Regions from separate parts of the Homo sapiens genome. Here region 2 is linked to region 1. Evidence: fine-mapped expression QTL. A gene starts in region 1. The other region holds a variant in brackets. All regions are shown on one strand. Distances are from middle to middle.

Region 1 (5,357 bases):
CCACAGGAAAACCCAGCCCAGGTGAGCTGTCACCATCCAACCTGGAAGTGACTATGGAGAAGGTGACTGGGAGCAAAGCCGCAGGCAGAGGGCAGCACAGGATGGCCCAGATGGAGCAGAGAGTCAGAGAACACATGCTTAGACTGAGAATCCCCAACTTGGACTCAAACCCTCCTGTTTCAAAACCCATTTTTGGCCATCTAGGCGCCTCCCACTGGCTCCTGCCCCCTTCCCACCTCCATGTGTTCCAAAGCTGGGCTTCTCTGAGTGCTACCCCTAGGCCCCCACCCCAACCCCAGGGGTATAAGATTCAGGCTTGGCCGGGCATGTGGCTCAAGCCTGTAATCCCAGCACTTTGAGAGGCCGAGGCGGGCGGATCACCTGAGGTCAGGAATTCAAGACCAGCCTGGTCAATGTGGCGAAACCCCGTCTCTACTAAAACAAAAATACAAAAATCAGCAGGGCGTGGTGGCGCACGTCCATAATCCCAGCTACTCGGGAGGCTGAAGCACAAGACTCACTTGGACCCAGGAGGCGGAGGTTGCAGTGAGGAGGGATTGCGCCATTGCACTCGACTGGGTGACAAGAGCGAGACTCCGTCTCAAAAAAAAAAAAAAAAATAGATTCAGGCTCAAGGTCTGAGATGAATGAATGGGCTCTGAACCCTCAGTCAATCACACCTAATCCCAACTCAGAGGTCCCCTAAAAGCCACTCTTGGAAGAAGGGCTCTCCTCAGAGGGGGTGTCTCTCGGTGGCTACATAGAAGGTCTCACAGGTCAGTGTCTGGGTGACAGTGCTCTGGAGGTCAGAGGGTGCACTTACCAGCAGCAGCTCTTGTCTTGGGCCCAGGGTGGAGCGTCTGCCACTTCCCAGCTGCAGCTTTGGGTCTCCCCTTCTTACTGTCCATTCTCCTGGGGGGTGGGTAGGGAAGGACCAGGGAGAGGGTGCTCAGAGTGGCAGAGGGCAGGGGCAGTGGCAGTGGGGAACAGGGCACACCATGGGCGCCTGAGTGGATGACAGCAGGAACATGGGCTCCCCTGAGGCTTCCCAGCTGGTGTCCTGTCTGCCTGCCCGCCCCGGGTGTGTGCCCAGAAGCTTGAGCCGGGATGCCTGGCAAGAGCACTTGGCCACCTCCCGTCCCCCTGGCCGTGGCTTGCCTGCCCCTCCGCCCCAGGCTCAGCCCATCCTGCCGGGCGCAGGATCTGGAGTCTAGCACTCTTCTCCCTGCCCCAAGCTGCTGGGTTGCCAGTGGGCCGGTCTTTGTTCTCACCGTAATCATGAGCATGGCCCTCTCTGCTGAAGCCTCCATGCCTCTCCACTGCCCTGGGAAGCCAGCCCACCCCTGAGCCTGCTCCCCAGCCCACCCAAGGCACTCACCCCTCCACACCCTCAGACCTTATGTGGTCCCGGCTCTGGCAGATGGTGGTGTCAGGCCCTGGAGCAACACCCCTCTCCCTAGTCCACACAGCTGACCCCCAAGTTCATTTCCCTGGGAGGCTCCTCCTGCCTGCCCCAGCCTGTCCGGGTCCTCCCCGGTGCCCCATGCCCCTCACCCGCTGCAGCACAGTTGCCTGGGCACTGGTCTGACCCCCCACCCATGTTTCCAGCATGCTGGTACCAGTGGGGTGGCACTGAGTGTTTGGGGAAAGAACAAATGAAACTGGGACTGACCCTGAAAACAGAAAATAGGATCACATGGCAAGAGGAACAAAGAGAAAGGCGACTGATGACCATCAGAAAGGGTTGAGGCAGGGCCAGTCCTTGGGGTGGGAGTGGCAGGGGCGAGGGGTGGTGGTTTGGACAGATGATCCAGTGTAGGGCAGGGCCTAAGAGGGGGAGGGGCCCTAAGTGAGGGCCTGAGGGGGACCTGGGGGACTGGAGCACCCAGGGGCAGCTCGGGGTGGTGTGTGGGGGTTGCTGTGTACATGGGGGGGCGTCTGGTATGAGGCTTGGTGTGCACACTGGGTCCCTTGTCCGTTGGGGCTTGGTTTTTGCAGAGTCCCTGTGTGTACACAGGGTTCCGTATGTGAGGGAGGTCCCCTGTGCTCTCAGAGTCAGTGTGAATATGGCATCCCCTGTTTGTGTGTGGGGTTGGTGTCTGAGAAATCTCATATGCAGGTGGGGTTCCCTAGGTGTGCGGATGTCAGCGTGTTCGTGGGTGACTGGCATGGGCAGGACTCGGTGTGCTTGTGGCTTCTGTCTTCCTGAGGAGTCTCCTGTGCTTGGGGGTTGGTGTACATGAGGCACAGGTCATTCGGGGTCCGCATGTGCATGGGGGGGTCACTGCGGCAGAGTCCCCTACAAGTGTGGGCATCGGTGTGAGGGGGTGAGGGAGAAAGATGGGGGACCCCAGGTACTTGTGGGCATCAGTGTGTGTGGTGGGGGTTGGGGTCTGGGGGTCCTCTGTGTGGGCGGGGTCCTCGTCTACGTGTGGGGCGCTGGTGCGGTGGGAGACCGGTGTGTGGTGAGGGGATCCCCTGTGCTCTCGGGGCTCCCAGACCCGGCCCCGCCCGGGGCTCGACGCCGCCCCACCGTCCTCACCTGTCGCACCTGCCTCCCCCAACTCGGCGAGGAGGCCAGAGCTCCGCCCCTGGCGTCGGGCTCGCTCGTTTCCTAGCGACTGAGCCGGAACTTCCGAGTCACCCCGACTTCCGGGGCGAGGGTCAGGGGTCAGGCTGGGAACTTTGAGCCTTGGGTCAACAGTTGGGCTCCCGGGGGTCGGGGTCTTTGAAGTGCGGGCCTCACGGTCTCCGGCGGCGCTGGGCCGGGGTCTCCGGGCGCGCGGCCGCAGGGCACGGGCGGGTCGGGGCGCGGGCCGGGGGCGCGGGCTGGGGCTGGCGGCGGGCGCGGGGCGCAGGAATGCGGGCGCGCCGCGGGTGGGGCTGCCCCGCCCCCAGGTGCTGCCCGGGCAGGCAGGAGGCAGGAGCGACGGGCGGGGCGGGGGCGGGCGCGTGAATCAGGCCGGGCGGGCCGCGGCAGGGAGTGGCTGCCGGACCGACCGGACCGCGAGGCCGCTGGGCGGCGGTCGGCTCCTGCTGCCCCTGTGCCGAGACCCCGCGCACCTGGCCAGGTAGGGCCCCCCTCCCCCGGCCCGAGCGGGGCGGGGCGAGGCGGGGGGCGGGCGCCCCTTGGCGCGGTCCCACTTGGGCTACCCTTGCGCCCACACCTGGGCCGGGGCCGCGCGACCCAGAGAGGGGCGGTGGGAGTGGAGCGCGGCCGCGTGCGCGGGGCCGGGGTGGCGGGGCTGCTCGGACAGGGGGCGCCGCTGTGCGGATATGGACGCGAGCGCCCCCGCACGACGCCGGCCCGAAAAGAGCCGAGGGGGAAGGGGCCCGGGATCCGGGTCGAGCCTGCCCGGCCGTCCCGACTCGCTCCCGCCCTCGCGGCCTAGCTGGAGTCTGGGTGCTGGGCACGGCCTGGACCCTTCCCTGGGGACATCCGCCCGGGCCGCCGTGGACTGGGGTGGCCAGGGTGCGGCCTGGATCCCCGCGTGGCGAGCAGGGCGAGTGATGGGAGTGCTGCCCCTCGCGCCCACGTTCCTGGGCTGGGGTGGGCGGATAGGGCACCCAGCGGCCGCAGCCGCGAGCTCGTAGGGTGCACTGACCCCGTTGGGGGCTGGGGTGCCCACTCCGCAAGTTATCACTGAGCGACTTCCGGTCTGTGAGCCCCGTCCTCCGCACCCCACCTTTCCGCCGCCTAGAGCCTCCGCGCCCTCCTGCGCCCATCGGAACTTGGCACAGGTTCACCCCACTTTGTGTAGGAACTCCAGATCCTTCCATGGGGTCCTCCTTCCAGATACTCAGGAACCCCACTTCCTGCCAGGGTGGAGAGGATGGGGTCCTTGAAGGCCAGCTGAGGGCCCTGACTTCGAGTCAGAGGTCAGGGGTCAGCAAGCAGAAGAGTGGATTCGTGCTGAGTCATTGCCCATGGGTGGGTTCCGCGCCCTCCCTCCCTTGGGCAGACGTTTGGTAGGCAAATGTGTGGGCATGCAGGCCACTGGGGTGCTCCATCTTGGGCTCGGGAGTGGCTGCAGCCCCGTCCATAGCCCAGGAGACACGTACCCATGAAAGGAGACGACGTGAGGAATGAAGCAGTTGGAGGTCTGGGCATCACCCTGTGAGGACGAGGCATGTCTGCTGGGAGGGCTCCTGGCCACGGGGGCTTCCACTGTCTGGATGGTCCCTGCCCCCATTACACACAGCCTGGAGCCTGGACACTGAAATCCAAAGGGACAGTGGGGGTCCTTTCTAGAGTGTCCCCCCAGTGTCGGGAAGTACCCTCAAACAACATCAGCAGGGTTGTTCCCCCTGCCCTGTATGGTCAGACACCGCCCCTACAGACAGGCTGGCAATGGTGAGTGGGCTCCTCGGCCCAGCCAGACAGGCCTACACCTCACCCCCATGTGGTTGGCCTCGATCTGCCCCTGGCACAACCAGAGCGGTGTGCCCTAACCAGCCCCATATGTCAACCATGAGGACGGTGCCCCAACAAAGAAATGTTGGGACAGCTTCTCCCAAGCCGGTTGGCATCTAGGGCTGTTGAGTGGCACCAGGTATTTCCCATGTCTCAACTCCATGTCACCCCCAGGGGCACCAGGCAGGACGGCTGCCTCCTGACCCCAACATTCTCAGCCAAGTGGCTCCGGCTAGCACCCATGTAGTCCAGCTGGCCGGCATCCATCCTGTCAGCGCCCAGGGGCACGCTCCTCTGGGCACCTTCCTAGCCAGGGCCAACATTCAGGAACCTGTGTGCTAGGCGGGGACAGGTGTCCTGCCTCCCTCCCCAACCCGAGGAGCAGTGGGATGGACTGAGCAGTCCCTAGGGCTCTCCTTCCAGGGAGAGGTACCCAGGTAGCTCAGTGACCCTGTGTGCGTGGGCCCTGGGCGCTCCCCATCTGACACCTTTCTGGAGAGGCCAGGCCCCCGCAGGGACCCTTTGGAGAACAGAGTGGGCTGTGGGGCAGCCAAGCATGGATGGTGGTGGCGAGCCCAGGACCTGGAAAGGTCCCTGCTGCCCTGGATGGGGGCTGGTGGGGACAGGACTCTGAGCAAGTGGAGAGCCAGATTTGGGCGATGTGGAGTGCAGGCCCTGCAGGGCCCTGTGGGCACCAAGGGGCTGTGGCCCAGGGAGGTTTTATCTGAGAGGGACAGTGACAAGAAAGAGGTCAAAGGTAGGCCAAGGGAAGGAGGGGGTGCTGGGAGACAGGGACGGAGTCTAGGGATCAGTGTTCCAGGACTGGGCGGTCATAGAATGGGCTGTGGGAGCCCAATTGTGAAACCCTGAGGATGGGGAGGAGGTGTGGCCCGGGACTATGTGTGGGGCTTAAGGTTGCCATTCCAGGAGGAGGGTAGTCACA
Region 2 (5,357 bases), 25 kb after region 1:
ACAAGCCCCAGGAGCAGACCCAAGGTGGCCCTGTGCTGCAGCCTTCAGGGTCCCCAGCAGGGCCCAGCATAAGGGGCTGGGGGGCAGGAGGGAGGCTGGCCTGGCTGCGGAGGGGTGGGAAGGGAGGCTGGCCTGGCTGTGGTGAGGGTCCGGAGGAGGCTGGCCCAGCTGTGGTGGGGAGGAGGGAGGCTGGCCCGGCTTTGGGGCGGTGGGGCAGGCGGTGAAACGAGGGAGGCTGGCCCAGCTGTGGTGGGGAGGACGGAAGCTGGCCCGGCTTCGGGGCTGTGGGGAGGGCGGTGAAAGGAGGGAGGCTGGCCCAGCTGTGGACGGGGAGGGCCTCACAGGGAGCAGACAGTGCCCCTCTTCCCAGGGCCTTTCCAGTTTGCCAGCCTGTATCTGAGGGGGGTGAGACTGCAGGTCCTGGGGGGACAAAGACCACCATGCCACTTGAGGAGGCCTGCATGGCCTCGGGGGAAGACCCCCGAGGGTGGGAGGTGTGTCACAGGAAGTGAGTTCTGTCCCCATGGATGGTGCAGGACCTGGTGAACCCCAGAGACCGCCTGCCTTCCTAACACAATGAGAGAAAAGCCTGGGGGATCCTGGGGAGGCATCTGAGCCCGCCCCCAAGGCCAGGCTCTCCCCACTTCCCCGCAAAGAATCGCCCCATGCAGCGTGGCCCCCCAGCAGAAACCAGGTCTCCTCCTGCCCCTCATCCCTGTTGGTCAGAGGCACAGCTGGGCAGCTGGCAGCCAGACCCGGGTCAGGGCAGAAGTTAAAGCGCTGGGCTGGGCAGAGGCCTGGGGGGGTGGGGGTGTGGTTGCAGGGACAGGAGTGTCCGCACTAGACTAGGGCTGCGGTCGGGGCTCCCCCAACTATTCCATGGAGTTGGTGGGTGAGGCAGGGGTTGCAGAAGTGGGAATTGCAGAATTGGGAAGAAGAAAGCCTCCAGGACGCCTCGACAGAGGAGAGCAGGAGGCTCCCAGATCTCTCTGTGAGGAGGCATTGGTGAGATTTAAAGCAAAGAAAAATCAAGAAACCCACAGGCAGGGATGACTTAAAACTTAAAAACCTTACCTCACCAGGGATTTAAAGGCCAAGAGCAACCGAGACCCTCCAGTGGCAGATGCGCGGGTGCAGTGGGGCTGGGAGTAGGGGAAAGAGCAGTCCAGACCCTGGACGTGGCGTGGCCTGGGATGGTACAGGGTCTGAGACTGTGGGGCACCCGACTGGCCCATGTGAGCAGGCCTCTGCCTATTGCTGCCTCAGTTTCTCAATCTGTCAAATGGGGACAGTGACCCCACACAAGGCCTGAGGGTAGCAGGGTGGAGAGCACTGGGGTGTGGCCATGGCAAGGAACCAGAAGAGGCAACGCTGGGCATTAAGCACCCCTACACATGAGCCTGCCCCCCACCCCAGATGAGTCCCTGCTGCAGTTGAGCCCCTGCTGCAGGGATGCAGGGATGCAGGGTCATGTTTTTCTCATGATTCTATGTGGTCTTTTCCCAATTTTCTGTGACAGGAGAGGCACCATTTTCATATTAAAAGCCCATATATTAAAGCCAACATTCAGATGCAGTTTAGTTTATAAGTCAATGTCCTCTTACAATGTTAATGCTTTGTTTGGTAGTTTGTGTCCTCTTATTTTTACTTATAAAATACTTTTTTTTTTTTGAGACAGAGTCTCGCTCTGTCGCCCAGGCTGGAGTGCAGTGGCGCAACCTCGGCTCACTGCAAGCTCCGCCTCTCGGGTTCACGCCGTTCTCCTGCCTCAGCCTCCCAAGTAGCTGGGACTACAGGCACCTGCCACCACGCCTGGCTAATTTTTTGTATTTTTAGTAGAGACAGGGTTTCATCATGTTGGCCAGGATGGTCTGGATCTCCTGACGTGATCTGCCTGCCTCAGCCTCCCAAAGTGCTGGGATTACAGGTGTGAGCCACTGCGCCCAGCCTAAAATACATTTTTTTACAAGGAGTAAAATGCCTCAATCGTGTTCTTAATTTTAAAAGGCTCTGCTGCACCTTTCAGGCAGGTTGGCTGATCAGAGCAAGCCCAGCCATGTCCATGAGCCACCAGACGACCTCCACCACAAACCTCTGTGCAAATGTGGTTTTCTAAACTGTGTCCCTCACAAAGATCCTCAAATCTGCCCACATCCCAGCAAATGTGGACAAACTGGGCAGAAACTCAACTCTATGATGACAGAACACAAAATAGGGGTCGATTTAAGTTGTGTGTCAAAGGCTGCTGGACACACTGTTCCTGAGGCATCTAACAGAACGGGAGCTGGGGACCGCTGGTCTAGACGGAGGCAAATCTTACAGGACCAACAGGTGGTGATGCCTGCTGTGCAGTAATGACCAATACATCAAGACAGCAGAGTTTGCAGCAGAGAAAGTGTCATGATCCCCGGACACCGAGCAAGGAGATGGGAGGGACCTTCAAATCCATCTCCCTGAGTTCTGGGCTGGGGTTTTTAAAGGGATTGTGGCGGGTGACGGACTGTAAAATGGGGTCATCAATTGGCCGGGGAAAGGGGATGAAGTCCTCAGGATGTGTACCCTGCGTTCTTTGGCACATTACCTCCTCGTGGGGTGCTTCAGACCAGCTGGGTCAGTCGCTTCATGGGTGTGCAGGACCTGTCAAATAGAAAACCTCACATTTTACTATGTTTAAGTTGTTACCTATAGAGCAGTTATGGGGACCTCTCATCTTGTGACAGGGTCTGTGTGATTCTGGGGCCACAGGCACCAAACAGCTCTGAGGAAGGAGTTGGGAGGCAGGCTGACCTCACAATGAATGCTGAGCGAGCTGCAAGCTGGGTTTGTTTTCCTTTCTCGCCTCCCTTCTTCCCTGATTAATAAAGTCTATAGGAATGGTTTCAATAATGATGTTGTGTCCACAAAGTCAACAGAAAAGGAGAAAAAGCCAGCCCTTTTTGGATCCCTATGTCCTCCAGCCATCCGGGCACACGGGGAAGGGAAGCTACCCAGCTGCAGAGCCGCGGATGAGCTGAGCGGGTGCCGCACGCGCGCGCTTAGGACCTTCAGAGAGAAACGCTCTC[T/C]AGGCGCCCAGTGGACTCCATACTTCAGGAACCCCAATTCCCACGGGGGCCTCACCGAAGGAATCACGAAATGCTCAGGGAAAGCAAGGGTCCCTGAAGAGGCGAATGCTCCAGGGAAGCGCTCCCTCCTGACAACACAGAGATTTCACTCGGGAAACGGGGGGGAACGTGGTGAAGCTCCTCTTCAAGTGGGGGACAACCCGGGAGAAGGCCCGTTGCTGAACCGAAGGCGAAGGGCGCTTCTGGGGTCTGTGAGATTCAGAAGCACGTCCGGAGTCCGTCTGAAGCCCAGTTTTGTCAGCTCAGGCCCTATCTCTGGGGGCACATTCACAAGCAGTCACGGGCGACTCAAGATGAGAGAGTTGTGCGGAATGAAGGAGTCGGCCATCGCCAGAGTAACGGGGTGGGGGTGGGAGAGGACGAGTAAGTTCTGTCTCCATAGAGACCGTGCCCGCCGAGCAGCAACATTACTAATGTTAGGCGCACCCAGACGGACAGCGAAGGTCCAGCGGGAGCCCACGAGTGAAGGTTGGCAAAGCTGCCCTGACCCGCGACCCAAAGCCCCGATCTGCCTCCCCAAAAGCCTCGTGACCCCGAGGCGCGTCCCACCTCTGGGCCTGGCGCCTAGAATATTTAGGCCAGGTAAGAGGAAGGGCTAAATTGGGGAAGGGGCCGGGGTCGCTGCCCTCACCAGTCCTGGTGGTCCAGGCACCAACCCATGGCGCCCAAGAAAAAGCGCGGGCCGAGCGCAGGGAGCCAGCCAGGTGGTGCGGCGGCCGCGGGTGCCGAGCAGCCGCTATCGGAGCGCGCGCAGTACCTGCAACGCGAACACGCGCTGCTCTCGGAGCAGCTGGACACCTGCGAGGAGAGCGTTGACCAGGTGCTGCGAGAGAACGCCTTCCTGGACCGCGAGGCGCTGCGCCTGCGCGAGGAGAACCGGCTCTACGCCAGCTACGTGAGCGCGCGCGCCCAGCGCTGCGCCAAAGCCATCGTCCGGCTGGACGAGCAGAACCGCGTGGACCTAGCGCAGATCCACTGGCAGCGGGCGGAACTGGCCTCGCTCTACCACGGGCGCGAGGACGGGGTGCGCGCGCAGCTGTTGGAGATGGAGGCGCGCGCGGCACAGATGGCACAGCAGGTGCAAGAGCTGCAGCCCTACAAGGCCAGTGAGCCCGCCCGCGGCCGGGGTGAGGCGGGGCGGGGCTGGTGGCCGGGCCGGGGGCGGGGTGGGGGTGAGCTGACGGCGCCCCCGCCGCAGGTGCTGCAGCTGGAGCAGCTGGCCCGGATCCGGGCGCTGGAGCGCGAGCTGCTGCATATGCGCGTGGAGCACACGCAGCTGCTCCACCGCGTGAAGCGGCGCTTCCTGGAGGACAAGGCGGCCTTCGAGCGCGAGGCGCGTCAGCGCGTGCAGTCACTGGCGCGGCGCGCGGAGCGGGAGGCGGTGCGCGCGCTTGTGGCGCACACGCAGGCCATCAAAGCGGACAACGGACGCCTGCGGCAGGAGCTGCTGCTGCTGCTCCGCCGGACCCAGCTGCTGCACCACACGCGGCGCCAGCTGCTGGAACAGCGCGAGCAACTGCACCGCGAGCACGAGGACACGCGGGACCTGGCGCGTGTGCACGGCTGGCTGCGCAGGGGCCCCGGAGGCCCGCCGCTCTGGGAGCGGCCGGCCTTCTCCCAGCCCACCTCGCGCCCCGGGTCATTAGCCGCCCCCATAAGCCCGTCGCGCGCGGCCTCCCAGACCCCGTCTGTGGTACCGTCGCGCGCGGCCCCCCGGGCCTCGTCCGTGGTCCCGTCGCGCGAGGCTTCCCGGGTCCCCTCGTTGGTGCTATCGAGCATGGACTCCAGGGTCCCATCGCTGGCCACTTCAAAGGTGGGATCCCGGATGCCATCCCTGACCGCTTCGCGCGCAGGCTCCCGGGCCCTGTCGCTGGTGCAGTCACTCGAGGGCTCTGGGATCTCTTCGGGGTCCTCACCGAGGGTGTCCTCACAGGACACTCTCCGCTCCACGAAGTCTGGCCCCAAGCTTCTCTCTGGCCTGTCCCGGGATCGGGATCCGGCTCTTCTCCCCCCACAGTCGGAGGACAGCGTGAACGCTGAAGCTGCGGCAGAAGCCTCCCCGGGTAGAGCCTGAACCTGCAGAGAGTGAGGCCCAGGAGGCCCTAGTGTGGGCGAGTCAGGCGCGCAGGGCGCTTACGGGGATAATGCAATGGTTAATAAAGGCGTGGCCCCCAGGCGGCTCTGACACCCGCGTGCATGCTCTAGCATTTCCGGCCGGCCACTCATTCGTGCGTC

Evidence for each region. PIP is the estimated chance that this variant, and not a neighbour inherited with it, causes the effect.
Region 2: its variant is the best candidate, but not a certain one, in a credible set for the expression of IQANK1 in cerebellar hemisphere (GTEx, PIP 0.58).

The regions. Positions count from the first base shown.
Region 1 is chr8:143,731,405-143,736,761 of GRCh38, reverse strand. IQANK1 (IQ motif and ankyrin repeat containing 1) reads right to left here and starts at 2,623. Exons shown (of 14, transcript NM_001381874.1): 1 at 2,543-2,623; 2 at 824-912. The coding sequence starts at 908. It overlaps FAM83H (family with sequence similarity 83 member H), which reads left to right and starts at 2,983. Exons shown (of 5, transcript NM_198488.5): 1 at 2,983-3,071. It overlaps MIR4664 (microRNA 4664), which reads left to right and starts at 3,609; the gene lies at 3,609-3,679. RefSeq lists an enhancer at 3,749-4,043 and a silencer at 3,920-4,130.
Region 2 is chr8:143,706,533-143,711,889 of GRCh38, reverse strand. It overlaps CCDC166 (coiled-coil domain containing 166), which reads left to right and starts at 3,781. Exons shown (of 2, transcript NM_001162914.1): 1 at 3,781-4,224; 2 at 4,321-5,196. The coding sequence starts at 3,781. The coding sequence ends at 5,196. It overlaps LOC101928160 (a long non-coding RNA gene), which reads right to left and starts at 3,839. Exons shown (of 6, transcript NR_134306.1): 1 at 3,754-3,839; 2 at 2,582-2,637; 3 at 1,075-1,142. The variant T/C (reference allele first, on the strand shown) is at 3,063.